7 linked regions of the Homo sapiens genome follow. The protein of the gene in region 1 purifies or fractionates together with the protein of each later gene. This does not show direct contact. Each region holds a gene or a part of one and is shown in the gene's direction. Other genes may lie near its edges.

The links.
Region 2: the proteins of L3MBTL2 (region 1) and ITPRID2 purify together in Homo sapiens (affinity purification with mass spectrometry; 2 studies listed by BioGRID and IntAct, with this or other methods). This does not show direct contact.
Region 3: the proteins of L3MBTL2 (region 1) and TFDP2 purify together in Homo sapiens (affinity purification with mass spectrometry; 3 studies listed by BioGRID and IntAct, with this or other methods). This does not show direct contact.
Region 4: the proteins of L3MBTL2 (region 1) and HDAC2 purify together in Homo sapiens (affinity purification with mass spectrometry; 3 studies listed by BioGRID and IntAct, with this or other methods). This does not show direct contact.
Region 5: the proteins of L3MBTL2 (region 1) and MGA purify together in Homo sapiens (affinity purification with mass spectrometry; 4 studies listed by BioGRID and IntAct, with this or other methods). This does not show direct contact.
Region 6: the proteins of L3MBTL2 (region 1) and MTA1 purify together in Homo sapiens (affinity purification with mass spectrometry; 2 studies listed by BioGRID and IntAct, with this or other methods). This does not show direct contact.
Region 7: the proteins of L3MBTL2 (region 1) and LIN54 purify together in Homo sapiens (affinity purification with mass spectrometry; 4 studies listed by BioGRID and IntAct, with this or other methods). This does not show direct contact.

Annotation. Positions count from the first base shown.
Region 1 is NC_000022.11:41,211,276-41,215,479, forward strand, and holds part of L3MBTL2 (lethal(3)malignant brain tumor-like protein 2), read left to right. Parts: intron 1-2,354; exon of another isoform or gene 2,355-2,617; coding exon 2,618-2,751; exon of another isoform or gene 2,752-3,428; intron 3,429-4,204. UniProt on the Homo sapiens protein: Putative Polycomb group (PcG) protein. PcG proteins maintain the transcriptionally repressive state of genes, probably via a modification of chromatin, rendering it heritably changed in its expressibility.
Region 2 is NC_000002.12:181,919,011-181,923,214, forward strand, and holds part of ITPRID2 (protein ITPRID2), read left to right. Parts: intron 1-285; coding exon 286-436; intron 437-1,586; coding exon 1,587-1,652; intron 1,653-2,937; coding exon 2,938-3,402; intron 3,403-4,204.
Region 3 is NC_000003.12:141,943,613-141,947,625, reverse strand, and holds the end of TFDP2 (transcription factor Dp-2), read left to right. Parts: 3' UTR 1-2,587; coding exon of another isoform or gene 2,588-2,616; 3' UTR 2,617-3,198; downstream 3,199-4,013. UniProt on the Homo sapiens protein: Can stimulate E2F-dependent transcription.
Region 4 is NC_000006.12:113,964,225-113,968,428, reverse strand, and holds part of HDAC2 (histone deacetylase 2), read left to right. Parts: intron 1-4,204. UniProt on the Homo sapiens protein: Histone deacetylase that catalyzes the deacetylation of lysine residues on the N-terminal part of the core histones (H2A, H2B, H3 and H4).
Region 5 is NC_000015.10:41,746,871-41,751,074, forward strand, and holds part of MGA (MAX gene-associated protein), read left to right. Parts: intron 1-1,766; coding exon 1,767-2,057; intron 2,058-2,240; coding exon 2,241-3,745; coding exon of another isoform or gene 3,746-3,748; intron 3,749-4,204. UniProt on the Homo sapiens protein: Functions as a dual-specificity transcription factor, regulating the expression of both MAX-network and T-box family target genes. Functions as a repressor or an activator.
Region 6 is NC_000014.9:105,443,260-105,447,463, forward strand, and holds part of MTA1 (metastasis-associated protein MTA1), read left to right. Parts: intron 1-2,158; coding exon 2,159-2,252; intron 2,253-4,204. UniProt on the Homo sapiens protein: Transcriptional coregulator which can act as both a transcriptional corepressor and coactivator. Acts as a component of the histone deacetylase NuRD complex which participates in the remodeling of chromatin.
Region 7 is NC_000004.12:82,982,984-82,987,187, reverse strand, and holds part of LIN54 (protein lin-54 homolog), read left to right. Parts: intron 1-2,311; 5' UTR 2,312-2,343; coding exon 2,344-3,027; intron 3,028-4,204. UniProt on the Homo sapiens protein: Component of the DREAM complex, a multiprotein complex that can both act as a transcription activator or repressor depending on the context. In G0 phase, the complex binds to more than 800 promoters and is required for repression of E2F target genes.

The DNA of each region.
Region 1 (4,204 bases):
CTGCAGCCTCGACCTCCTGGGCTCAGGCAATCCTTCCACCTCAGCCTCCTGAGTAGCTGAGACTACAGGTGCACGCCACCATGCCTGGCTAATTTTTGTATTTTTTTTTTGTAGAGACAGGGGTTTTGCCCTGTTACCCAGGCTGGTCTTGAACTCCCAAGCTCAAGTGATCCCCCACCTCAGCCTCCCAAAGTGCTAGGATTACAGGCATGAGCCACCGCACCCAGCCCCAAACTCGTTAGAAGAGTAATCTAATACTCTTTGCAGTTGAATCTTATTTCCTTTTTTTTTTTTTTTTTGAGACGGAGTCTTGCTCTGTCACCCAGGCTGGAATGCAGTGACATGATCTTGGCTCACTGCAAGTTCCGCCTCCCAGGTTCAAGCCATTCTCCTGCCTCAGCCTCCCCAGCAGCTGGGACTACAGGCGCCTGCCACCACACCCGGCTAATTTTTTTTGTATTTTAGTAGAGACGGGGTTTCACCATGTTAGCCAGGATGGTCTCGATCTCCTGACCTTGTGATCTGCCCTCCTCGGCCTCCAAAAATGCTGGGATTACAGGCGTGAGCCACCGCACCCGGCCTTTTTTTTTTTTTTTTTTTTTTTTTGAAACAGAGTCTCGCTGTGTCACCCAGGCCGGAACGCAGTGGCACGATCTTGGCTCACTGCAAGCTCCGCCTCCCGGGTTCACGCCATTCTCCTGCCTCAGCCTCCCAAGTAGCTGGGACTACAGGCGCCCTCCGCCATGCCCGGCTAATTTTTTGTATTTTTTAGTAGAGACGGGGTTTCACCGTGTTAGCCAGGATGGTCTCAATCTCCTGACTACGTGATCCGCCCGCCTCAGCCTCCCAAAGTGCTGGGATTGCAGGCGTGAGCCACCGCTCCCGGCCTTACTTCCTTTCTATTTATATTGTCTTCTTTTCATCCCTTGCCTTTTATCTTTCTCCCTTCTATCCTCTTCCAGCCCTTCTCTTAGAATCTTAGGATTTAGAACTAGAAGGAACCATTAGAGACCACTTAGACCAGGGGTTCTGCACATTAGAATCATCTAGGGGAGCTTTTAACAAACTACAGGTACCAGTATCCCGTCACAGACCAATTCATTAGAATTTTAGGTTCAGGCTTTTTTTTTTTTTTTTTTGAGACAGCGTTTCACTCTTGTTGCCCAGGCTGGAGTGCAGTGGTGCCATCTCAGCTCACTGCAACCTCCGCCTCCCAGGTTGAAGGGATTCTCCTGCCCCAGCCTCCGGAGTAGCTGGGATTATAGACGCCCACCACCGCGCCCGGCCATCTCAGGCATTTTTAAAAGCTCCCCAGGTGGGTCTAATAGTGAAGTCACGGGCCAGGCATGGTGGCTCACGCCTGTAATCCCAGCACTTTGGGAGGCCGAGGCGGGAGGATCACAAGGTCAGGAGTTCAAGACCAGCCTGCTCAACATGGCGAAACCCCGTCTCTACTAAAGATATAAAAAATTAGCCAGGCGTGGTGGCACATGCCTGTAGTCCCAGCTACTCAAGAGGCTGAGGCAGGAGAATCCCTTGAACCCGGGAGTCGAAGGTTGCAATGAGCCAAGATGGCGCCACTGCACTCCATCCTGGGCAACAAGAGCAAAACTCCATCTCAAAAAAAAAAAAAAGTGAAGTCACGATTAAAACACTGATCTAGCTGGGCGCATTGGCTCACGCCTGTAATCCCAACACTTTGGGAGGCCGACACGGCGGATCACAAGGTCAGGAGATTGAGACCATCCTGGCTAACATGGTGAAACCCCGTCTCTACTAAAAACACAAAAAAATTAGCTGGGTGTGGTGGCAGTGCCTGTAGTCCCAGCTACTCGGGAGGCTGATGCAGGAGAATGGCGTGAACCCGGGAGGCAGAGCTTGCAGTGAGCCAAGATTGCGCCAGTGTACTACTCCAGGCTGGGTGACAGAGCAAGGCTCCGTCTCAAAAATAAATAAATAAAACACTGATCTAGTTCAGTCCCTTTACTATATAGATGAGAAAATAGAGCCACAGAGGTTAAGTGACTTTGGCACTTTTTCTTCCTATAAATTTTTTCGCTTTTTTTTGAGACAGTGTCTTACTTTGTTGCCCAGGCTAGAGGTACAGTGGTGCAGTCATGGCTCACTGCAGCCTCAGCCTCCTGGGCTCAGGCAGTTTCCCCCCGCCAAATCACACCTGGCCTTTTTTTTTTTTTTTTGGGCAACAAGGTCTTGCTATGTTGCCCAGGATGGTCTCAAATTCTTGCCCTCAAGCAATCCTCCCTCCTTGGCCTCCCAAACTGCCGGGATTACAGACAGGAGCTACCATGCCTAGTTTCTTCTCACTTTCCTCTGACAAACTTTTCAACACTCACCTGTTCCCCCAGTCGTCCTCATGGATTTCCATTAGCCCCTCTGTTGACATCTGTAGCCAAGGGAGGCCAAGCAGCAGCACTTCATTCAGGTAGATTCAGGATATACACACCAGTACCTCCCATTCCTCCTCTTATTCCATTAGCCTTTGTGGGGGCAGGGGCTCACCTGGTTAATGCAGTGCCCCAGGTTTTGAAGGGCCCATCACTTTGTTTGCTTTGAGGTGGTCATATCGGGTGAGTCATGTGCTAAGTTCTCTTCCCAGCTGTCTGTGAGATGTGTGGTATCGTGGGTACAAGGGAAGCCTTCTTCTCCAAGACCAAGAGGTTCTGCAGCGTCTCCTGCTCCAGGAGCTACTCCTCCAACTCCAAGAAAGCCAGTATCTTGGCTAGGTTACAGGTGAGAGGCAATCACTTGGATCCTTCCCGGTGCCTTTGGTGCTGAGACAGGAACCACCAAGTGACTGAAGGCCAGGGCCAGGAAAGTTTGAAAAGGTCCTTGCTTGTGGCCAGCTGGTATTTATTATGTTCTCAAACTTCAGAGGACAGTAGAATCCATTTGTGGAGCTTTTTAAATTATAGGTTCCTGAAGCTACGCTCCATTACCTACCATCATCCCCCAGAGTCTGGTGTATTCAGTACATTTTAAACAAGAACTATGGGGGAGTCTGACACCCTTGGTCTTCACCCCACACTTTTATAAATCCTTTCAAAGGAAGTTGGGAAACAGGCCCAAGGTTCACCAGCCACGGTGGCTTCAGGAAGACCATGCCTCCTCGGACTCCATGTCACAGGCAGCTACCTAGAAAGTCTTGCCAATTTTCTAAATTACTGATATTTATAGAATCTTTAGAGATGGAAAGATTCTTGGATGTGGTGTTGAACCCACACATTTATTGATAAGTATACTGAGGTCCAAGGAGGTAGAATGACATACCTAGTGTGGCTCTGTAGGAGGAGAATGGCGGAATTGAGGCTGGAACCTCATCTCAGGGGCCTCATCTTACCTTGTTTCCCAGTAGCTGGGACCAGCATCTGCAACACTGCTTCCCAAATTTGCCTGCATGTTGGGATCACCTGGAAAGTTTAAAAATTATTGATGCTGGTCGGGCACGGTGGCTCACGCCTGTAATCCCAGCACTTTGGGAGACCGAGGCGGGCGGATCACGAGGTCAGGAGATCGAGACCATCCCAGCCAACATGATGAAACCCCGTCTCTACTAAAAATACAAAAATTAGCCAGGCGTGGTGTTGTACGCCTGTAGTCCCAGTTACTCGGGAGGCTGAGGCAGGAGAATCGCTTGAACTTGGGAGGTGGAGGTTGCAGTGAGCCGAGATCGTGCCACTGCACTCCAGCCTGGGGGGAAAATATTATGTAAAATATATTGATGCTTGGGTCCTACTCCGAAAGGTTCTGATTTAACTGGGATGGTGTGTAGCCTGGACAGAGATTGGAAGAGCTCCCAGGTGATCCTAATGTGCAGCGAAGTTTGAGCACCACCGATGTTTATTAGAAATTGCTGTGTCCCAGATCCTTCTGCTTACTGCTTCATACACTGTCGCCTTTGTGAGACAATTACCATTGTTTCCCCATTTTGTAGATTTTACTTAAGGCACCGAAAGATCCCTCTCTTCCGAGAGCTAAGAATAATATTGGTAATATTAATAGCTATGGTTTGGGAGTACTTGCTAAGGGCTTGACATTCTCAGTCCAATTAACGATCTTAAAAAATTTGATTTTTAAAAAAATTCCTTTTTATAAAGGCTCAGAAATTTTAGTAACTTACTTAAAGGTATACAACTAAAAACTGTAGAACTGGGATTTGCCCTGTAGGTTTGTTTGGGACTTAAAC
Region 2 (4,204 bases), on another chromosome or scaffold:
AGATAAGATTAGTCATAGATAGTGTTTTACTAAGTAAACTTGTATGCCTTCAATATCCTAAGGGTAGTGGTAACCTGCTTTCCCGTGTTTGAGATATTTGTGAGAGGATAGGGGAAGAAAGACTAATGTCCTTGTGGATACACCTATTGTAGTTGATATTGTACTAATTTCTAGAACCTGAGATTTCCATGCCTTCTGTTAGCATATAGTAGTTGTTGAAAGATTTGTGATTAGGAATCTCCAAACTGCATTTTTCCAATTTTGTGCCCTTCACCATACCAATAGGTTTGAAGTTGATCAGCTCCAGGGTTTGAGAAATTCAGTCCGAATGGAACTTCAGGACCTGGAACTGCAGCTGGAGGAGCGCCTGCTGGGCCTGGAGGAGCAGCTTCGTGCTGTGCGCATGCCTTCACCCTTCCGCTCCTCCGCACTCATGGTACGCTACCTGGAGGGTGGTCGGAGTTTTCACCAAAGGTTTATTTATAATGTTCCAATAATTTAGGACGTGTGCCTTCATTTCAAGTCATTTATTTTAATGGTATTAAAAGCATGCATACTGTTTAAGGAGCTTTCCCACAAATCAGTTGAATGTACAATTTGTAATAATTGTCATAAATAGTATATTTAGAAATATGTTGAAAATTTTTAATGATAAATTTTAATAACAGGAAAGAATAAGGGCTTATACGAAAGTTGAGGGTTTTTAAAGGAAAAATGCTAGTGAATTAACATATGACTAATGTAAATTTTAATTGTTGCATGTAACTGCAGAGAACACAGATGCATATTTTGCTGTTTTTTTTTCTTTCATGCCTTTAAATAAAAAAGTGTTCCTTTTAAACTTTTTCTTTATTTTGGATTCTTTTCCATTTGTTTTTAAAGGAATCAAATGATACCTGTATATTTTCATACATATATATACATACACATACATATATGTATTTTCCTAAATATATAGATATATATCCAAGAGAATAAAAAGAAACATGTTTTTGTACCACTTTTCATACTTCTAATGTTTCTTTCCATAACATTTGAACTTCAACAGTTGTATTATTTTTGCAAATATCTTTGAAGTTGTAGAATATGTTGCTTTGAAATGCTGAAATAGTGAATTATTCTTTGTTACCTTAACAATGTATTTGATTTTGTTAAAAAGAAATGGATGAATATACACACATACAATTATGTGTGTATATACTATAAATGAAGTAGAATAAACAATGGTGTATAAACACATATATGTATAGCATAGACTAAGGATGTTCTGTATTGCTAATGAATGTACTTTTCAACATGGTTTTGATTTATCATTCTGAGAAGTGTATGTTGGTGACGGGAGAACTAGAACATCCTTTTTGCATATTGTATCAGTTTTAACTCACAATAATGCATTTTATGGGATCTGTGACACTTGAGAGTAACCTTTGTGACATAAAGGGATGCTTCCAGGCACTAATTAGCCAATTAATTTTATTATAAAAGTCTTGTGATTTGAAAAAATATATATGTACATTATAATTATATATGCATGTATGTATATATACACACACATATACATATATATATTGTTCTTACCTTTTCAGGGAATGTGTGGCAGTAGAAGCGCTGATAACTTGTCATGCCCTTCTCCATTGAATGTAATGGAACCAGTAAGCTTCTTTCCTCTTAAATCACTGGGGAAGGGAATGATACAACATTTCAGACACATAGTTTCCCTAGTTTAGATGAAATATATGTTTATTTTAAATACATAATTTGATAAATTATTGTTGATTGGAAGTGACTTTCACCTTTGAAAGTCCATTGCTGTCTGAAGCCACTAGAAAGCCACCTGAATTGCAATAGTGATTTATCTTTCTGACTAAAGGAGGTAATGCACCATAAAAACATGTACAGTGGCTCATGCCTGTAATCCCAGCACTTTATTTAAATGGTTGAGGTGGAAGGATTGCTTCAAGCCAGGAGTTTGAGACCAGCCTAGTCAACAAAATGAGACCCTTTCTCTACAGAAAATTTAAAAATCAGCCAGGCATGGTGATATGTGCCTGTAGTCCCAGTTACTCAGGAGGCTGAGGCGGGAGGATTGCTTGAGGCCAGGAGCTCAAGGCTACAGTGAGCTATGATTGTGCCACTGCACTCCAGCCTGGGTGACAGAGCAAGACCCTGTCTTTAAAAAATAATAAGCCAGGTGTGGTGGCTCATGCCTGTAATCCCAGCATTTTGGGAGGCTGAGGCAAGTGGATCACCTGAGGTCAGGAGTTGAAGACCAGCCTGACCAACATGGTGAAACCGCATCTCTACTAAAAATACAAAAATTAGCTGGGCATGGTGGCAGGCATCTGTAATCCCAGCTACTTGGGAGGCTGAGGCAGGAGACTTGCTTGAACCCGGGAGGCGGAGGTTGCAGTGAGCCGAGATCAAGCCATTGCACTCCAGCCTGGGTGACAGAGTGAGACTCCATCTCAAAAAAAAAAAGAAAATTGATTTTTAATTTACATTTCAGGAGACATGTGCTTTCACAGTTTGATCCTGGTTCTTTAGGTAGTTAGAGCTGTAACATGACCACGTTTTTAACAGAAATCTGTCTTTATTGTGTTAGACAGATTGGTTCATTTGGGGGCAAAAGCACTATGAGTAACTATTTTTCACTAGTTACTCTTCCTTACAAGTGATTTGGACACTTTGGTGGTAACAAGTAAAATTTCATCCTACTATGTATTCTGTTTACCTGTTTTGTTGCTTCATCTCAATAGGAATTTAAATTTTACTTACCATTTTTGCAAATAAAATTGAGTAGTTATTAAATTAATGGAATAGATTTATGTCTTTACAAATTACATGATTTTAGGCAATAATGACAACCAGGACTTTAACCTTTTTAGCTACCAATCTTAATTCCAAGAGAGAAGAATAACATTTTTTTATGATCTCCAGGTCACTGAACTGATGCAGGAGCAGTCATACCTGAAGTCTGAATTGGGCCTGGGACTTGGAGAAATGGGATTTGAAATTCCTCCTGGAGAAAGCTCAGAATCTGTTTTTTCCCAAGCAACATCAGAATCATCTTCTGTATGTTCTGGTCCCTCTCATGCTAACAGAAGAACTGGAGTACCTTCTACTGCCTCAGTGGGCAAATCCAAAACCCCATTAGTGGCAAGGAAGAAAGTGTTCCGAGCATCGGTGGCTCTAACGCCAACAGCTCCTTCTAGAACAGGCTCTGTGCAGACACCTCCAGATTTGGAAAGTTCTGAGGAAGTTGATGCAGCTGAAGGAGCCCCAGAAGTTGTAGGACCTAAATCTGAAGTGGAAGAAGGGCATGGAAAACTCCCATCAATGCCAGCTGCTGAGGAAATGCATAAAAATGTGGAGCAAGATGAGTTGCAGCAAGTCATACGGGAGGTGGGTAAAATCTGTGTTTCATTCATTTATTTGGAGGTATATGTTAGAGGAGATTTTGTCTGAATATTAATTATTTACAGAATGTTCTTTTGATTCACTGTATTCAATAATTTTCACAGAGCTTTTAAATTAGCTTTCCTGTTGATCAAGTTTGTGTCAATTAAGATATATTTGTAATGGCATTTCTGCAAATTTCATACTCTAATGTGAAATAATTACAATTCTCTGTGTTCAGTATGGTGAAAAAGATATGTGAAGGACTCAAAATAAACATGACGTACTCTTTGGACCTCTTGTTTCCACATCTACAAAATGAGGATTTACAGTTTAGATCTCTTCGAGGATTAAAAACTGCATTTTATAGCTGGACGTGGTGGCATGTGCCTGTAGTCCCAGCTACTCGGGAGGCTGGGGTAGGAGAATTGCTTGAACCTGGGAGGCGGAGGTTGCAGTGAGCCAAGATCATGCCATTGCACTCCAGCCTGGGCAGCAGAGCAAGACTCCATCTCAAAAAAAAAAGAAACTGCATTTTATAATTACAATTGATAGGAGAAAATGATTTTGTGATTTTAATAAGTATAAATAGATTGATTTGGTTTGGTGTTTTTTATTCAAAAATCAAAATATACGAAGAAAAGAGGGTTTGCCCTAGGTGATAGCAGCATAAGAACTTGAAGAATTACCATAGTTATGGATGACCAAAAGAACTGCAAAAGGAAATTACATATGATTAGTAGTGAAAGTTCAAAAGTTGAGAAAATTAGTAAAATAAATGTTTTTTGCACTGAGATCAGGTAATAGG
Region 3 (4,013 bases), on another chromosome or scaffold:
CAACTGAATCTATGCAGTAGAAAAATCATTAGAAAATACAAAAATTAGCCGGGCGTGGTGGCACATGCCTGTAGTCCCAGCTACTCGGGAGGCTGAGGCAGGAGAATCACTTGAACCCAGGAGGCGGAGGTTGCAGTGAGCCAAGATCCCGCCACTGCACTCCAGCCCAGGTGACAGAGCAGGACTCTGTCTCAAAAAAAGAAAAAAGAAAGAAAGAAAAATGATTAGAAATTGAGAACTATTTTACGTGTTTCTAAGTTGTTGGCTACATCAAAGAGATCATCTGTATTCTGCATATGGGCTGGCTTTGGTGAAGCTGATGACTGGACTTCTAAGAACCGTTTTCCCAAATGGGTTCCCATATTCATGCACCCAAAGCAATGGTCCCCAAGCACTGATGAAAACTAATATGCATTTCCCAAAGACCCACACTATGTATCAGGAGCCTGCACCATGCCATTTGAATGACCCTCAGCAATGTGCCTCCCTGCCCTCAAATTCCCAGTTGATAACAGTGTTTGATTAAATTTCCACTCAAGCCAAACATGGTTACTAAGAAGAGAAAAACCTGATGTTTGCATAATATTTTTTTTCCCCTCGAGATGGAGTCTTGCTCTGTTGCCCAGGCTGGAGTGCAGTGGCATGATCTCAGCCACTGCAACCTCTGCCTCCCGGGTTCAAGCGATTCTTCTGCCTCAGCCTCCCAAGTAGTTGGGATTACAGACATGTGCCACCACGCCTGGCTAATTTTTGTATTTTTAGTAGAGACAGGGTTTCACCATGTTGACCACACTGGTCTTGAACTTCTAACCATGTGATCTGCCTGCCTCGGCCTCCCAAAGTGCTGGGATTACAGGCTTGAGCCACCACGCCCAGCCTAAGATTTTATGATTAAAAAAAATTCAAGCTCAATACCCACATAAATTATAACGTTTCTCAGGAAGTAGTCCCTTAACCAAAACGTCTCTGAGAAGTGATGCTTAGGTAATCTCTGGGATCCGATTTTCCCACATGTCTCACTCCACAGTATGCTAAAGAAGAAAAAGTGAGTGGGCACAACACTTTGACCCTCTGGCTAAGCCCTGGGAGTCCCTGACAGGTCCAGAAACTTCTCTGACACCCATTCACCAGGGTGCTGAGATAGGAGAAAGTGCTCATTTATAATGTGTATTCTGTGCAGCTGTTCTCAGACAAGACCGGATCTTGTCATCTTACCTTTTGCTTTACAAAAAAGGCCTGTTGAAGTCAATGCTGTCTTGCCCCTTGCTGTTTCAGCAGGTTAGACTTTGGTCTTCACTGCTTATAGCTGCATTGGAGGCCAACGTAGCTGATGCTCAGGGTCAGGCCTCGCCCCTTCGCCGCAGGTCTCAGGATCGGGGATAACATCGCTCCCACCCTGCTCATTTAGAGATGGGAAACAAGCAAGAGCTTGACTTGCCTCCCATCCCTCAGCCTGTCTGTGGCAGAGCCTGCACCAAAACCCAGAGCTTCTTCCCTCCGTGAGGGCCACGCTGTCACCACAGTCCTCCCAGATGGGTTTTGGATTAGCATCAGTCCTGTGTCACCAAGTGCCAAACAGCTGAGGGGTAGAAGTGGGACTCCTTTCCCGAGCCCCAGCATGAGGCTGTGGTGTCAGGTTTAGGCCTCTCTCAAGTCAGAAAACCCCGGGCTGAGACCTCCACAGACAAGGGCTCCCCATGCTGGCCATTGGCAGGGGCCCAAGAAGTTCAGTGACCAACTGGTCCTTCCACACCACACCAGCTGGTGCTGCCCATGTCTGTCGAATCATAACGGAAAATTCCCCAGATCACGTTTGGATTTAAAAACTCATCCCTTGTCGTGCTTCAATGCATGCCATTTGTCACTTACCATACTTCACCATGGCCGAGCTTCATGTCACATGGCCTGGCGATTGTGCTTGTTCACACTGGGGCCAGGATTTTCATACTAAAACGTCACTGACAATGGGGCTACTTTTCTCCTGAATAGCTCCTCTGGGCTTGTTGCAGTTCTAGTTTTCCCAGTAGTTCCATGGCAGGTTCAACCTCTCAGTGTCCTGAAAAATGGAACCACCCACTAACCATATGCACTGGCTGCCCAGGTGGCTGCACTCCGGGGATCACGTTTCAGTACTGAGTTCCTTCACGCACTTGGTTCACCACCATCACTCTTGAGTTTTGGACAAAAGAGGTGGGTATGCCAGGCACAGTGGCTCACGCCTGTGATCCCAGCACTTTGGGAGGCCGAGGCGGGCGGATCACCTGAGGTCGGGAGTTCGAAACCAGCCTGACCAACATGGAGAAACCCTGTCTCTACTAAAAATATAAAATTAGCCGGGTGTGGTGGCGCATGCCTGTAATCCCAGCTACTCGGGAGGCTGAGGCAGGAGAATCTCTTGAACCCAGGAGGCAAAAGTTGCAATGAGCTGAGATCGTGCCATTTGCACTCCAGCCTGGGCAACAAGAGCGAAATTCCATCTCAAAAAAAAAAGGTGGGTAAAGGGCCATGAGCCCAAACCACTAGGTTGTTCACCTTTTCATCTGAAAATGCTTTACTCTGACTATGTGCTATTGGGTTTTATTTCCAGAAAATATAGTTCTCCTTTTTTCTGCATGAAGGATACATCGTGGTGCCACATGCTTTAAGCAATTTAAACAAGAGAGATAAGAGGAAAATGCAACCACCACATCTGACTTGCCCAATGTAGACTTTCCTTTATTAGATTGAAGTACACAACCTAATATGATATATTATTTTGTAGTATCTCAGACTTTGTAAATAAATGCCATTATTTTTATATGGAAATTTTATAGAAGAGCTATTTCTGTATACGTAATTACTCCTGATTTTCTGAAATTGCTTCTGGTAGATAACAGACAAGTCCTAAGCAGTGTTCCACTAAGGGTGGTTCCAGGCCTGCCTGCCGTGGAGTTGACTGGGGGAATTTTACAGTTTTGCGATCCTAGGATGCGTCCCAGACGCTCAGTCAGAAGTGCTGGAGGTGGGGCCTGGGAAGCTGTATTTGTAATGAACTCTGGTGTTTTTTGTCCATTAAAGTGTATCTTTGTCCATCCTATAAGATTAAAGGAAAGAAAAAGCATCTCAAATGAGTGTAAGTTGTTCTTGAGAAAAAAATGTATCAGACTTTTATGATTTGAATGAAATGTATTATAGAAAAAAATAAACACTTTAAAATAATGTTAGTCTCATTACTAGTGGGTCAGGATATTTTTAGTTAAAAAAGGAGGTGTTAGGCCATGCGCAGTGGCTCACGCCTATAACCCCAGCACTTTGGGAGGCCAAGGTGGTCGTATCATTTGAGGTCAGGAGTTCAAGACTAGCCTGGCCAACATGGTGAGATCCCGTCACCACTAAAACTACAAAAATGAGCTGGGTGTGGTGGCATGCGCCTGTAATCCCAGCAACTTGGCGCAGGAGAATCGCTTGAACCTGGGAGGCGGAAGTTGCAGTGAGCTGAGATCACACCACTGCAGTCCAGCCTGGGCAACAGAGTGAGACTCCATCTCAAAAAAAAAAAAAAAAGCCTTTTTTTTGTTTTTGTTTGTGAGATGGAGTCTCTGTTGCCCAGGCTAGAGTGCAGTGGTGCAATCTTGGCTCACTGCAACCCCCACCTCCCAGATTCAAGGGATTCTCCTGCCTCAGCCTCTGGAGTACCTGGGATTACAGGCACGTGCCACCACACCCGGCTTATTTTTGTATTTTTTTTTTTTTTTTTTGAGACGGAGTCTCGCTCTGTCACCCAGGCTGGAGTGCAGTGGCGCAGTCTCGGCTCACTGCAAGCTCCGCCTCCCGGGTTCACGCCATTCTCCTGCCTCAGCCTCTCCGAGTAGCTGGGACTACAGGCGCCCGCCACCACGCCCGGCTAATTTTTTTTTATTTTTAGTAGAGACGGGGTTTCACCGTGGTCTCGATCTCCTGACCTCGTGATCCACCCGCCTCGGCCTCCCAAAGTGCTGGGATTACAAGCGTGCAGCACCGCGCCCGGCCTATTT
Region 4 (4,204 bases), on another chromosome or scaffold:
TTTTGTCAGCTTACAAAAGTAGCAATACTAATTCTTTTTTTATTGTGAGAAGAGAATGCAAGGAAAGGAGCTTCTGTATCAAAGAATCGTGACTTTAAGGTATATAACATGGATTGGATTGGGAATGGGTTATATCTGTAGTAATAGGGTCTGAATTATCTGCTAGCCTAGGTTAGATGGTTTTAACTTCTTGGTAAAGGAAGTAGAAGGAAGAAAGTGAGTGAAAAAGAAAAGGACGGAAGTAGCAAATTCTATAACCATAGGAATCCTACCTTTAGGCTTCCTGGGGCTGTTAGGCACACGGAGCCTCTTGGCCACACAGAATGTCTGCCACTGAGGCTGTTTGCATCTTAATGAAAGAACTTTTAAATATATACATATTGTTCTCTGCACGTTATGTAATCTTCAGGTAACCCTTTAGGTCACTGAAACGTTGGTCCCAAGGGAACCTTCAGACATTGATGGATTAGGTATCCTTAAACCTTTGAAGAAAAGTAAGAGAAGTTATTACTTCTCTGACTGTAGCTATTGATCCATGCCTCCAAATTCCCAAAAACATACTTCTGAATCATGTTCCTTCTTTATACACTAGAAGATCATCAAGAATCTGTAAAATGATACAGCTAATTAGATAGTCACTAAGATCCCTTCTGGGCCTTAAAACGATGTGATTTTTCTCTACTTAAATATAATTAGCAGCTAAGCTGTGTTAGGCTCTAGTTATACCACTCACATTTTTAATACTGTATCTAGACATGTTTATGCTTTGTTTTGAATTAATCTTGAGGCCAAACATATTTAGTGCTTGTTTTTATGGTGTATACAGTATAATAGGGTTTATATACCTAATTTATGTAACTATACACAAATTTCTCTGTGCTCTATTTTTTCCTCCTCTGAGAGGGATGCATAATCAGTTTTGGAGACAAGTGGTCCAGAAAAAAACACTCAAAGACTGTATACAGATAAAACTATATAAATACAAAAGTTATCAAGATTAGGCCAGGTGTGGTGGCTCATGCCTATAATCTCAGCACTTTGGGAGACTGAGGCAGGCAAATCACCTGAGGTCGGGAGTTTGAGAAGAGCCTGGCCAACATGGCGAAACCCCGTCTCTACTAAAAATACAAAAATTAGCCAGGCGTGGTGGCAGGCACCAGTAGTCCCAGTTACTCGGGAGGCTGAGGCAGGAGAATGGCTTGAACCCAGGAGGTGCAGGTTGCAGTGAGCCAAGATAGTGCCATGGGCAACAAGAGCGAAACTCCGTCTCAAAAAAAAAAGTTACCAAGATGATACCTCCCAACGTACTCCTTCTTCAGCAAATTATAGAAATTCTACTTGGCAGCCAACGATTGTCAGATTTTCTTAGACTTGTATTTATGAGTAGTACCAAAGTCTTTTGCTGAATAACCTTTAATACAACTACATGGGTTCTTAGCTGTGGTATAAATCTTTATTATCCGTGAAATAGGTAATAATTTCTTTGGAGGCAAATAAGTGCTAAATTAATTATAGCAGCAGTTCATAAATACCAGTAATACTAATTGCACAATAAAACATGACTAAATAAGACTGAAATTTTCCTATACTTCTCTTTCCCCAGAAATCTTTTGCCTCTCTTTTCTTTCAAATTTTACCTCATCAGAGATGCTTTCTCCTATTACCTAAGTCCCTGTTATTGCCTTATTTTTCTTCCTTTTGGTTGTACCATATAACTTTTGTCTCTCTCCTCACTATAACATAAGCTTCATTAGGACAGTCTGTCTGTTTTGCTTGTGTTTGTATCTTCGCCAACTACATTTAAAAACGTAGCTTTTTTTTTTAATTAGTGATGAATAAATTATTAATTCCTTATACTTTTTTTTTTTTTTTGAGATGGAATTTTGCTCTTATTGCCCAGGCTGGAGTGCAGTGGCGTGATCCCAGCTCACTGCAACCTCCACTACCCTCCCGGGTTCAAGTGATTCTCTTGCCTCAGCCTCCCAAGTAGTTGAGATTACAGGCACGTGCCACCACCCCTGGCTAATTTTTGTATTTTTTAGTAGAGATGGGGGTTTTACCATGTTGGCCAGGCTGGTCTCGAACTCCTGACCTGGGGTGATCCACCCACCTCAGCCTCCCTAAGTGCTGGGATTACAGGCGTGAGCCACTGTGCCTGGCCAATTCCTTATTCTTATAGATAGAACGCTTTCATATAACGTTCCCTCTAATTCTTGAAACTACTCTGAACTACATTTAGGTAGGATGGGTGGCATTTTGGCATTTTTGGTATTGTTTAGATGAAAACAGATTCACATTTGTTTGGTGCAGTCTACCACTTTTCCTTTTCCACACTGACTGTAGTTTTAATGTTCAAGGAGAGTTCAACATCCGGAATCTTTATTTTTCTTTTTTCCTTTTCAAAGTGTTTCCTCTGCTACCAAACAAACAAAACTCCTTAACAAAAACTTTAAATGCTTCTGTTGACAAGTCCTTAAAGGAAAACACTTGGGATTGGAGAAGGCATCTCTTAGGGAATGTTAATAAATTCAAACTTGGAAGAATTCAAATCAAGTCTAAGGATTTTTTTGTACTGGTTATTAAGCCTTATTCCTCTGTATTTCAGTAGCAGTCTGCTTATTGTTACTTGTTCATTAAGCCAGCTTTGGGTTCAGACATATCAAATAGGCTTAAAGTTCCTACTGTGTGCCAAATAGACAAAAGATTGCTCAAGTCCTAAGAAGGAAATAAAAGACTGCAGGTATAAAGTAAGAGAGGGGGCCGGGTGCAGTGGCTCACGCCTATAATCCCAGCACTTTGGGAAGCCGAGGCGGGCAGATCACAAGGTCAGGAGTTTGAGACCAGCCTGGCCAACATGGCGAAACCCTCTCTCTACTAAAAATACAAAAAAAAGTTAGCTGGGCATGGTGACGGGTGCCTGTAATCCCAGCTACTTGGGAGGCTGAGGCAGGAGAATCGCTTGAACCCGGGAGGCAGAGAGGTTGCAGTGAGCCGAGATCATGCCATTGCACTCCAGCCTGGGTGGGTGGCAAGAGCAAGACTCTGTCTCAAAAAAAAAAACAAAAAAAGTAAAAGAGAGGGGACCTTTGATAGTGTAATCAGAAAAGGGAAGACCTGAAGGAAGAGAATGGGCCAGCCTTAAAAAGAGTTTACTACATAAGATATTACAAATAGCAAAGCCAGATAGTTATTAATAGAACTTGGTGCACTTAATGGGAAGGAAGACAAGGAAAATGTGGAGTCCCATGTTAGGCAGTAAAAAGTGGGACTGCACAAAACTGTGTAGTAAGAAATTTGACTTTACCCAGAGGTGGAAAGCCATTGAAAGTTTCTCAAATAGAATGCATTCTCTCAAAATAATTGGTAAGGAGTTGTGGAATATAGGCTGGAAGCAAGAATTGAACACATATTGGTCCATATAAAATGTAATGGTTGCATTTTAGATAGAAATAGACATATTTAAGAGAGATTTGGGCCTCAAACCAATAGAACTTTTTGATGGATTAGAAATGGAGTTGGAGCTGAGGAATGGTGTTAGAGAATGAAGGATGACTCCTAAGTTTCTGGATTGAGCAGTTAGGTGGTATGTGGTACTACTCACTAAGATTGGGAATACAAATAAAGAGCTCTGTTTTGAACATCTTATATTTGAGATCCTTATTGAATTCAAGTGAAAAGACTGAGAAGAGAGTTAACCTCTGTGAGTTTATAATCCAGAGAGGAGAGTCTAGACATAGAAATTTGGGATTTCTCAGCTTATATCAGGTGAAGTATTGAGACTGAAAAAGATACAGCATAGACAGACGACTGGTCCCAGGACTTAACTCCCGAGAGAAGAGAATTTAGGGCAGAACTATTGTTCACTGATGAACCCAAACCCTTAGAACAGTACCTGCTTGGCACATGGTAGGCTCTTGATTTATTAAATGAATGGCTGAACTGAAAACCCTTGATGTTTAAAGGTTGGTGGAGGAGTGGCCTTGGGGTACAAGTAAAATCCCAAGAAAATGGTATTATGGAAGCCAAGGCTCCGAATGTCTCAAGGAGGAATAACCTCCTTGAAATATGTATTAAAGATGTGTTAATATGTATAAAAAATGGATAGTGGGCTAAGTAGTCTGGAAGATGAAAATAATAAACTTTTTTCTTTTCTCTTGTTTTTTTTTTCCTGAGTCTCTTTTTGCAGTCAACTTATCTTTGTGGC
Region 5 (4,204 bases), on another chromosome or scaffold:
TTATTAATGTTAAATAAGCTCACCAATTTGAATAGTAATGTTAGACCAGTTTCATTTATGCTTACTATTACCATGATTCCTACCTCTTTATCTCTTTGATCTAAAAAAAAAAATCTAGATTACTCATACTGTTTTTTCCTATGTCTTTAGTATTTCGAAATATGTCTTCCAATCAGGAAAGGGCATCTTTAAAGTACTATTAATGGTTTGAAATCTCTATTAATTCACATCTTCTGCATTAAATTTCTGCTTTTTCTTTTTGTTTTAAAAACATCTTTTGCCTCTTCTAAGCCAGGTTTATTTCCCTGCTTCTTTGATGTCTCTTAATTTCATTCCATTTTGGGGGGCTTAAGTAATTTTTTCCTTCTGAAAAATAATTCCCACAAACCTTTAAGCTTTGCATATTTGTTAGTGAATTTTAAAAACCAAAAGCCCTTTATAAACCAAGGATTTTTAGTTCTTTATCTTCCTCAGGTGGTATAAGCTTAGAAATTGACCCATAACTCTAGTAAGTGTTATGAGCTTTAATTTTAAAGTTAAATTGTGCAGAATCTGGATTTTATTTAAAAACATAAGAGGCCAGGCACATTGGCTCATACCTATAATCCCAACATTTTAGGAGGCCAAGGCAGGAGGATTGCTTGAGCCCCAGGGGTTCCAGACCAGCCTGGGCAACATAGCAAACTCCATCTCCACAAAAAAAAAAAAAAGCGTGCACCTGTGGTCCCAGCTACTTGGGAGGCTGAGCCTGGGAGTTCGAGGTGGCAGTGAGCTGTGATCCCACCACTGCACTCTAGCCTGGGTGACAGAGTGCGATGCTGTCTCAAAAGAATGAAGTTGAAGCATAATTTTATCATGAATGATCCCTTTAACAGGAATCCAGATTTAGAGAGATAACCATGTTTTTCTTTAGGCAAAAGTATTATCTCTTTAAATGTGCCTCTTGACAGTTGATACTCTATTTTTTACCATTCTAAATGTAAAGCTCCATAATGTCTGGCTGTTCTCAGCCATAAATAGTGTATTATGAAACTACAGAATTTCAGCAACTTTATAATCCAAATTAGACGTTATTTGAAGCAAGGTCAGATTCTGTGCCTTAATGACTGGGCATGGTGGCTCATGGCTGCAGTCCCAGCACTTTGGAAGGCCGAGATGGCAGGATCACTTGAGGCCAGGAGTTTGAGACTAGCTTGAGCAACAAAGCAAGACCCTGTCTCTGCAAAGAATAACATAATTAGCCAGGTGTAGTGACACATCCCTGTAGTCCCAGTTACTTGGAAGGCTGAGGCAGGAGGATCTCTTGAACCAAGGAGTTTGAGACTGCAGTGAGCTATGATTGAGCTACTGCACTGAAGGTGACAAGTGCAACCCTGCCTCTTTAAAAAAAAAAAAATATAGACTGGGCGCGGTGGCTCACGCCTGTAATCTCAGCACTTTGGGAGGCCGAGAACGGCAGATCACTTGAGGTCAGGGGTTTGAGACCAGCCTCACCAACATGGTGAAACCCTGTCTCTACCCAAAAATACAGAAATAAGCCAGGTGTGCTGGTGCACACCTGTAGTCGCAGCTACTCGGTATGCTGAAGTGGAAGAATCACTTGAACTAGGGAGGTGCGGAGGTTGTAGTCAGTCGAGGTTGTGTCATTGCACTCCAGCCTGAGCAACAAAGCAAGACTGTGTCTTAAAAAATATTATGAATACTTTTTTTTCCTACGTGTGTTAAAGGGGAATTTGGGTACCATGTTTCCATTTCCTGTTTTTCAGAAAATGCTGCTCAAATTCCAGTGGCTACTCCACAGGTCTCTCCTAACACAGTGAAACGTGCTGGACCTCGATTGTTGTTGATTCCAGTGCAGCAGGGTTCTCCTACTCTTAGACCTGTCTCAAACACACAACTTCAGGGACATCGGATGGTCTTGCAGCCTGTTAGGAGTCCAAGTGGAATGAACTTATTCAGGCACCCTAATGGGCAGATTGTCCAGCTTCTACCTTTGCATCAGCTTCGAGGCTCTAATACCCAGCCCAACTTACAGCCTGTCATGTTTCGGAACCCAGGTATAAAGTTCTTTTTTATGAACTTTTCTTTTGTTGAATCACTTGGCCATATGGTATGTTAATACACCAAGATTGTTTTTCTTCATCTCTTAAGAGTTACTTTTCCAAAAAGAAAAGCAAACATTGGAAGTCTTGATATGGGCAGTCATGATTTAAAAATTTCTCTCTTATTTTTTAAACCAGGGTCTGTGATGGGAATCCGGTTACCTGCTCCTTCCAAACCCTCTGAGACTCCGCCATCTTCCACTTCGTCCTCTGCTTTCTCTGTCATGAATCCTGTAATTCAAGCTGTTGGGTCTTCTTCAGCAGTGAATGTTATCACTCAGGCACCATCATTGCTTTCCTCTGGAGCTAGTTTTGTGTCTCAGGCTGGTACATTGACCCTGAGGATTTCTCCTCCTGAACCACAAAGCTTTGCAAGTAAAACAGGCTCTGAAACCAAAATAACTTATAGCTCAGGAGGACAGCCTGTTGGTACAGCCAGTCTTATTCCTCTCCAGTCTGGTAGTTTTGCCTTGTTACAGCTCCCAGGACAAAAGCCTGTTCCTAGCTCCATTCTTCAGCATGTTGCTTCCCTTCAGATGAAGAGAGAATCTCAGAATCCAGACCAGAAAGATGAAACAAACTCAATAAAAAGAGAGCAAGAAACGAAGAAGGTTCTACAGTCAGAAGGAGAGGCTGTAGACCCTGAGGCTAATGTAATAAAACAAAACTCAGGAGCTGCTACCTCAGAAGAAACTCTGAATGATTCCTTGGAAGATAGGGGTGATCATTTGGATGAAGAATGCCTTCCAGAAGAAGGTTGTGCAACTGTCAAACCATCTGAGCATTCCTGTATCACTGGGTCACATACAGATCAAGATTATAAAGATGTTAATGAAGAATATGGGGCTAGGAATCGTAAGAGTTCCAAAGAAAAAGTGGCTGTTCTGGAAGTTAGGACCATTTCTGAAAAAGCCAGTAATAAGACAGTCCAAAATTTAAGTAAAGTACAGCATCAAAAACTTGGTGATGTGAAGGTGGAACAGCAGAAAGGATTTGACAATCCAGAAGAAAACTCAAGTGAATTTCCAGTCACCTTTAAGGAAGAAAGTAAATTTGAATTGTCAGGAAGCAAAGTTATGGAGCAGCAATCTAATCTACAGCCAGAGGCCAAAGAGAAGGAATGTGGAGACTCTCTGGAGAAAGACAGGGAAAGATGGAGAAAACATCTGAAGGGCCCCTTAACCAGGAAATGTGTTGGAGCTTCACAGGAATGTAAGAAAGAGGCAGACGAGCAGTTAATTAAAGAAACAAAGACATGTCAGGAAAATTCAGATGTGTTTCAGCAAGAACAAGGCATCTCTGACTTACTTGGAAAAAGTGGAATTACTGAAGATGCCAGAGTTTTGAAAACTGAATGTGATTCTTGGAGTAGGATTTCTAATCCTTCAGCCTTCTCCATTGTTCCTAGGAGAGCTGCAAAAAGCAGCAGAGGGAATGGACATTTTCAGGGTCACTTACTGCTACCTGGAGAACAGATACAACCAAAGCAAGAGAAGAAGGGTGGGAGAAGCAGTGCTGACTTCACTGTTTTGGATTTGGAAGAAGATGATGAAGATGATAATGAGAAAACTGATGATTCTATTGATGAAATTGTGGATGTTGTTTCTGACTACCAGAGTGAGGAGGTTGATGATGTAGAAAAGGTGGTGAGCCCATTTTTGTTGTGACTGAAACCTAAAGGATTTAAATGATTTATTAAAGACAGAAGCTTTTTCAGAAGAGCACTAAGGCATAATACATTTAATTGGATGCCTAGGTTTAAGATTATGACTTAAATGGCTTAGTAGTTCTTTAGGCTGTGTCAATCAAGCATCATTTATTGAGCTTTTATTCTTTGAGACTTGTCTGGTTTTATGGGAAGGCTGGCTTAAATATTTGGGGGATAGGTGCTTGAGAGTCCCTACCGAGTTAGATTTTTAAAATCCCGAAACCACTACTCCCATTTGACCTCAGTCAATTTCTATGACGTTTTCTATGTGAGGTGGTTGTAGCTTCTCTGGTAGATGTTAATCAGAAACTGGGAATGGGTGACCTTAGAACTAGAGGAGAACTTATTCACTTGCATATAGAGAGATGTTTTTGTTTTTGGAGAAAAACTGGAA
Region 6 (4,204 bases), on another chromosome or scaffold:
GCGAAGGGGAGAGGAGATGCACGTCCCAAACAGAGGAATTCCACCCTCGAGAACGCCCGGCTCCCGGCAGGCTGTGCAGAGCAACTGAGCACTTTTCTCTTTATTCTTTCTTTTTTGTTGTTGCTTTTTTGAAACAAGGTCTTGCTCTTTTGCTCAGACCAGAGTGCAGTGGCACGATCTCAACTCATTGCAGCCTTGACCTCCCAGGCCCAAGTGATCCTCTCACCTCAGCCTCCCAAGTAGCTGGGACTACAGGCGCACACCACTGCATCTGGTTAATTTTTAAAACACATTTTATAGAGATGAGGTTTCACCATGTTGCCCAGGCTGGTCTTGAACTCCTGGGAGTGAGCCACTGCCCCCAACCCATTTATAACATTAAACCAAATTATCTTTAAGAAAAGTGGCCAGGTGCCTTGGCTTACTCCTGTAATCCTAGCACTCTGGGAGGCCAAGGCGGGCAGATTGCTGGAGTCCAGGAGTTCAAGATTAGCCTGAGCAATGTGGTGAAACCCCGTCTCTACAAAAAATTTAAAAATTAGCCAGGTTGGCTGGGTGCGGTGGCTCATGCCTGTAATCCCAGCACTTTGGGAGGCTGAGGCGGGTGGGTCACGAGGTCAGGAGATAGAGACCATCCTGGCCAACATGGTAAAACCCCGTCTCTACTAAAAATACAAAAATGAGCCGGTGTGGTGGTGGGTGCCTATAGTTCCAGCTACTCAGGAGGCTGAGGCAGGAGAATCGCTTGAACCCGGGAGGTGGAGGTTGCAGTGAGCTGAGATCGCACCACTGCCCTCCAGCCTGGGCGACAGAGTGAGACTCCATCTAAAAAGGCCGGGTGCGGTGGCTCACGCCTGTAACCCCAGCACTTTGAGAGACCAAGACGGGCGGATCACGAGGTCAGGAGATCGAGGCCATCCTGGCTAACACGGTGAAACCCAGTCTCTACTAAAAAATACAAAAAAATTAGCCGGGCGTGGTGGTGGGCGCCTGTAGTCCCAGCTACTCGGGAGGCTGAGGCAGGAGAATGGCGTGAACCCAGGAGGCGGAGCTTGCAGTGAGCCGAGATTGCACCACTGCACTCCAGCCTGGGCGACAGAGCAAGACTCTGTCTCAAAAAAAAAGCCAGGCATGGTGTAATTGGACTGTGGTCCTGGGAGATGGAGGCTGCAGTGACCTGACATCACACTGCTGCATTCTAGTCTGGGCAACAGAGTGAGACCCTATCTCAAAAAATTAAAAAGTTAGGTGAGGCTGGGTGCTGTTTACACCTGTAATCCCAGCACTTTGTGGGGCTGAGGCAGGCAGATTGCTTGAGGTCAGGGGTTCCAGACCAGCCTGGCCAACATGGCAAAACCCTGTCTCTACTGAAAATACAAAAATTAGCTGGTCGTGGTGGCTCACGCTTGTAATCTCAGCTACCTGGGAGGCTGAGGCAGGAGAATCACTTGAACCCAGGAGGCAGAGGTTGCAGTGAGCCAAGATCACAACACTGCACTCCAGCCTGGGCGACAGAGTGAGACCCCATCTTAAAAAAAAAAAAAAAAAGAGTTATAAATAGTATTCCATTAGGCACTTGCACTGTGATTAGAATTACAGCACAATTCTTGCAGTAGCAAAGATGTTATAAAAACTCGTTCAGAAAACATACGTGCTTCTCTGGTGGCGTTTTACAGCCGTCTTGACTTGGAGACGTTTGTCAGCCAGGCCAGGTGGGAGGGCTGGTCCCATGCGGGGGGTCCAGGCTGCGTCCGCCGCTAGGGCCGTGGCTGCTGTGCAGGTCACCCCAGAGGGGCTGGGATAGCTGGGCGTGGCCTCCCAGGAGCTGACTGAGGTCCTACCCAGTGTGGCGGGGGCCTTTTCCTCCTTGGGACCCTGCTGTTCTCAGGTGGTACACTGGGGTCTGGAAGGGAGGGAGAATGGAGACACAGGTTGAGGTTGGGTGCACACGCCCGCCTTCTCCCCTGGGATAGACGCCACGGGCGTCCAGAGCTGCAGGATTTGCTCCATTTGTGAAGTGCCCTCCTGGAGTCCCGAGGGGTGGTGTGGTTACACCTGCAGTCCCTGGACGGCAGGGTCCGGCCTTGGAGCCCCTCCTGGGAGCTGTGCAGCCCGGGTTTGGTCGCGTTTCTCAGACGCCCCTGCCTTGCTGTTACAGACGGCCAATGGGAACGTGGAGGCCAAAGTGGTGTGCTTCTACCGGAGGCGGGACATCTCCAGCACCCTCATCGCCCTGGCCGACAAGCACGCAAGTGAGTCCGGCCTTCCCTGGGGTGCCCGCCTGGCGGGAGGGTCGGCTGGGGAGGGCTGGCGGGGTCCTTCTTCCCTAGGGCCCATCGGCATCCTGGCCTCGTGGGGCCACCCTCTGCCCAACTCACTCTGGCGTCTCTTTTTCTCCCTTCCACAGTGGGCGGGGGTGTCCTGGCTCCGTTTCCTCGGGGGCTGGGTGAATGAAGTCCTCGCACGCCCCCCGGAGTGGTCTGTCTCTCACTGGCATCCTCTGCAAGCTTGTCATGGTGTGGCTGGGTGTGGGCATCATTGATCGAGGCTTCTTTTTCCCTTCTATGATGACTTCTGGAGACTTTCCAGGCTGGTGGGACCCTGCTGCCTGCACTTGCCAATGTCTCTCTCTTTTTAATTTTGCGGAGAGGCTTCTGTTGGGATTCTGAGTAGTGTTTTCAGGAAAGCAGTCCTCTCCTTATTCTTTACGATTCAAACCCAAGTTTAGTAACCTGGCTGGGAGGGGCTGCTGTGGCCAGCACAGCGTGTGGGAGGAAGCCACTGGCTGCATGGGAATGCCCTCAGCCTTGGGGACCCAGCTTCTCCCCCGGGAACAGGTGCTCGCAGGTGGTGGAGTCTCCTGTGCCGGGGGATGTTGACTTCAGAGCCAGGAGCCAGAGGCACCCCCACGCCCTCCACATGCTACTGACACAGGGCCTGCCGAGCTGGGCCCCACCTGCACCAGACACAGTGTGGTACCCCACTGAGGCCCTTCATGTGTCGGTGGGGGCAGGCATGAGGGGCATTTTTGGCTTCCACTCTGACACATCACCTGGGGTGGGATCTGAGCCCAGGCTGAGGCTGTGGTCTGTAGGGTGACATTTCCCAGTAGGTGAGGCATGTGACTGCCCGGGTACCCGTGTCGCTGGGGTGGGCCAAGGTCCCACCTGTAACCTCCCACGACCCCTAATGGGGTGAGGTCCAGGGACTGTGGGTTTGCGGTGGGTCGGGTGGGAGGACCCTCGCATCTTCTGCCCCGTCCCAGCGCTGTGGGTGAGGGGCAGGAAGTCAGCCCAGGCAACCTCCCCCTGCTCTGGGAGGGGCTTAGGGACAGGACAGACCATCCTGCCACCGATGCCTTGTTCCTGAGCCTTTGCTGGGAGTCGGCCAGGGCAGGCGCTTGTGGAAGGAAGGTGTCCCTTAACCCCACTGCCTTGCCCACCGGACAGCTGGGACCTTTCCTCAGCAACCAGTGGATGCGGACGTGAGCTGCCCTGGGTCAGTGCAGCTGGGCCGGGCCCCCGAGCCTGGGTCCACTCTGGACACTGGGCTGTGGGGCCTGTGGCTGGCCCAAAGGGAGCTGCCAGTTGACCATGGGCTTTCTCTGGCTTTGTGAGGAACTGGACCTCCTAGCTCTCTGCTCAGAGGAGGGGAGCGTTCAAGGTGGGGCATGGTGATCCTTGACCTCTGACCCCAAAGCCTGTGTACTCCACTGCTGCACTCGGCGGGCTCCAGGCACCAAGGAGGAGAGCTGGGGATGTTGAAGGTCCACAGGCTACACATTCTGGAGGGGTGTTTGGTGTGGCCCTTGGCCCTGCAGGTGCTGGGTGCCAGTCAGCAGCACGGCTGGCGGTTCTTAGTGTTGGAGGCTGGCCTATGTCGACTCTGCAGGGCTGGCCCGCTGGAGAAGCAGTGGTGGGGAGCGGCCTGGCTCGCTGGAGAAGCAGTGGTGGGGAGCGGGCTGGCCCGCTGGAGAAGCAGTGCCCAGGCTGAGCGGCCGCAGTGTGGCCCTGCCAGTCTGTGTGGCCTGGGGAGTCAGGCGCCACCGTTGAGTTGGGCATGTTTATGGCTGGCCCAGGGTGGATCCTGTCTCTGTCCTCTGGCACCTGGGGGCACAGTGTCCCTGCTCCAGAGAGCCTGTATCAGTGGTTTAGTGGTTTTTGAGGGTACTGTGGCCCCCTTGGCTGAGGTTCTGCTCTCAGAC
Region 7 (4,204 bases), on another chromosome or scaffold:
TTCTGAGTAGCTGGAATTACAAGCACCCACCACCACGCCTAGCTAATTTTTGTATTTTTAGTAGAGATGGGGTTTTGCCATGTTGGCCAGGCTGGTCTCGAACACCTGACCTCAGGTGATCTGCCCACCTCGGCCTCCCAAAGTGCTGGGATTACAGGTAAGAGCCAGTGTGCCCAGCCAAGATAATTAACTGTGGCATATTAAAAACCTGAGCTGGAGTCCTGGCTCTACCATTTACTAGCTATGTGACCTTAGGCAAATTAACCTTTCTAAATGGCCTCATCTATAAAACAGGGATAATGATGATTCCCATTTCTGAGTTGTTGTGAGGATAAATTAAATTACGTCATCAGTGTTGTAAGCACTCAATAATGATGGTTTATTTTGGTGGTAGTAGTATTTGCCAATGCTAATAGTTGTAATTTGCTACTTGTGTGTTAATTTTGGATGGGTGTTGTATCTTTTTTTTTTTTTTTTTTTTTTTTGAGATGGGGTCTCGCTCTGTCGCCCGGCTCAAGTGCAGTGGCACGATCTCGGCTCATTGCAACCTCTGCCTCCCAGGTTCAAGTGATTCTTCTGCCTCAGCCTCCTGAGTAGCTGGGACTATAGGTGCATGCCACCATGCCCAGCTAATTTTTGTATTTTTAGTTGAGACGGGGTTTCACCATGTTGGCCAGGATCGTCTCCATCTCTTGACCTTGTGATCTGCCTACCTCGTGATCTGCCAGAATGCCCAGCCGGGGTGGTGTATTTTTATATTTAAAAAAAGGGGGCCGGGCATGGTGGCTCACACCTATAATCCCAGCACTTTGGGAGGCCAGCGTGGGCAGATCACCTGAGGTTGGGAGTTTGAGACCAGCCTGACCAACATGGAGAAACCTTGTCTCTACTAAAAATACAAAAAATTAGCTGGGCGTGGTGGCACATGCCTGTAATCCCAGCTACTTGGGAGGCTGAGGCAGGAGAATCGCTTGAACCTGGGAGGTGGAGGTTGCGGTGAGCCGAGATTGCGCCACTGCACTCCAGCCTGGGTAACAAGAGCGAGACTCTGTCTCAAAAACGAAAAGGAAGAGAAGAAAGTTGCTGATTTGGTTCCTATGGATCTTTGATGTTCTCTGGGCAAATAACTCACTGCTATTTAGTCTGTCATAAACATGATGTGCTGTCTTTTATACATGAAGATAATAAAATTGATTCCTTTATTGGAAGTTCTACAGACCTTTGGCTAAAAGTACCACAGCTCAAAGTTTTTCGTAATCTGCTTTATGATTATTACTTTTTTTCTTCATGGGGATTGGCTGTACATCTCTTAAATGGTTCTTTTTGACACTTTAAATGGCGGAGGATGGCCAGGCACGGTGGCTCACGCCTGTAATCCCAGTACTTTGGGAGGCCGAGGCAGGTGGATCACCCGAGGTTAGGAGTTCGAGACCAGCCTGGCCAACATGGCAAAACCCTGTCTCTACTAAAAGTACAAAAATTAGCCCGGCTTGGTGGCAGGCGCCTGTAATTCCAGCTACTCAGGAGGCTGAGGCAGGAGAATTGCTTGAACCCAGGAAGCGGAGGTTGCAGTGAGCTGAGATTGTGCCACTGCACTTCAGCCTTGGCAACAGAGTGAGACTCCGTCTCAATAATTAATTAATTAAGTAAGTAAGTAAATGGCCAAGGAGGGTTTGAGAATCTTCTTTCCAAATAAAAATTTCCCTGGTATGAAGCTAGTTGGTCAAAGTTGTACCACAAATGCTATTTGATCTGCAATTGCTGAGATGTATTACTCTAGAAACTCCTTTAACTTTAATTTGGGTATTTAATGGATTTTTAAAATGGGATAGTACACTCATATTAGGACGTAGCTCATTGGAGATTTGAATGTATTTTACAATATGTTAATATTTAAATCTTTATTTCCTTGTGTGAATCAGCAGTTTTCAAGTCTGTCAATGAGAGGAAAAAAATCTGGGTAGAAATAAGATCAGATACATCAAAGATTACAAATTTTATTAGAGGGCGTTGGAAAGGAGTTTCATGTGATTATGTGACTTAGTGTTGCCTGAGTGCAAGATACTTGTGGATTGAGACGAGAGTAAGAATGTTTGCTTCTAGTTTTGTGTTCCCATATGACTTATATTATAGATTCTTGCAGGTTGAGGATGTGTTAACATGATTTAACCCAGATAAGCTTCAGGAATATTCTTCATTCAATTATATATCAATTTAAAAATTGTCATTTTGCCATTTGCATTTTTTTTGAATTTTTTTCTTACATCTTTTGAAACCTAGTAACTTGTTCATTTTTCAACTTTTATTACAGTGCCTGATCAACTTTCTAGCGGGAGAACGATCATGGAGGTGGTGCCAGCTGAGGTGAATAGTTTGCTTCCAGAGGAAATAATGGACACTGGTATAACTTTAGTGGATGATGATAGTATTGAGGCTGTTATTGTTTCATCCCCAATTCCCATGGAGACAGAACTGGAAGAAATTGTCAACATAAATTCTACTGGTGACTCTACAGCCACGCCCATTTCCACGGAACCAATCACAGTGTACAGTAACCACACTAACCAAGTTGCAGTGAATACCACAATTACTAAAGCAGATTCTAATACCACAGTGAAACCAGCTTTTCCAAGTGGCCTTCAAAAACTTGGTGCTCAGACTCCTGTGACTATATCAGCCAATCAGATTATTTTAAACAAAGTATCACAGACATCTGATCTTAAACTTGGCAATCAGACCCTTAAACCAGATGGACAGAAGTTAATTTTAACAACTTTGGGCAAGTCTGGTTCACCAATTGTTTTAGCACTACCCCATAGCCAACTACCCCAGGCTCAGAAAGTTACAACTCAGGCCCAGTCAGGAGATGCTAAGTTACCACCGCAGCAAATTAAAGTAGTTACCATTGGAGGGAGGCCAGAGGTGAAACCTGTCATTGGTGTCTCAGCATTGACCCCAGGAAGTCAACTGATTAATACTACAACTCAGCCCTCTGTGTTACAGACCCAACAGTTAAAAACAGTACAGGTAAAAGAAAAAAGGGGGCTTACTAATTAAAATGCATGTTTAAAAAAATTTAACTGATTCATAGTTGTGTTTATAGGGTTACTAAATACATAGTTGTTACTGAATTCTTTTGAATGTTGTTTTATGTAATTGTGTGTGTGTGTTTTTAAGTTTGATATGTCTAATGCTTATGAAAATTTTTACCAGATAACTTAGAAAGCAAACTTAATTTTGGTTAAATTCCAAATTAGTATATTTATAGCCTTTTACTAATTTTAAAATGCATTTTATTCTTAGTGGTAGTTTGATTACAAGGATGTTTTGCTGGTATAAATATGCCAGACTTGCTGCTGGGCTATCAAAAAAATCATGTAGACAACATTTTTTTTTTTCAGTTCACAGATGGCCAAAGGCTAGGAGAACTTTGTTGCTCTGAGAAACCCTCAGAGCCAGTAATAGTGCGTGTCAGCCAGCGTGTGCCTTTTATTTGGAGTTTACTGTTCATTGCCATTATTCATGTTTGTACTATGGAAAAGACAGTGACATGTGATGGAAGATAACATACAGGCTTTAGAGTTGTACCAACTGGGCTTGAGTTGCCTCTATCTTATCCTACCAGTTATGGAAAACTTTCGTAGGTTACTTATCTTCTCTGAGTTTTTGACTTTATCTTAAGAATACTTTTTGATCAAGATGAAATGTGTAGTATAATTCTCAAAATATTGAGGATGTTTCATAATGGTACCTATTATTAGTATGAATAGGACCCTAAGAAAGAAGGTTACTGGAATATATATTAAGTGATTTCCAGTTTATCATGCCCAAATAGGCTTTCTTAGGCCACCACTACTCTTGGAAATGCAGTGATCGGCGGGGCGTGGTGGCTTAAGCCTGTAATCCCACCCAGCACTTTGGCAGGCTGAGGTGGGCGGATCACCTGAGGTCAGGAGTTTGAGACTAGCCTGCCCAACATGGTGAAACCTCATCTCTACTAAAAATACAAAAAATTAGCCAGGCATGGTGGCGAGTGCCTATAATCCCAGCTACTCAGGAGGCTGAGACAGGAGAATCGGTTGAACCCGGGAGGCAGAGGTTGCAGTGAGCCGAGATCGCGCCATTGCACTCCAGCCTGGGTGACAAGAGCGAAACTCCATCTCAAAAAAAAAAAAAAAAACAAGAAATGCAGTGATATACTTAT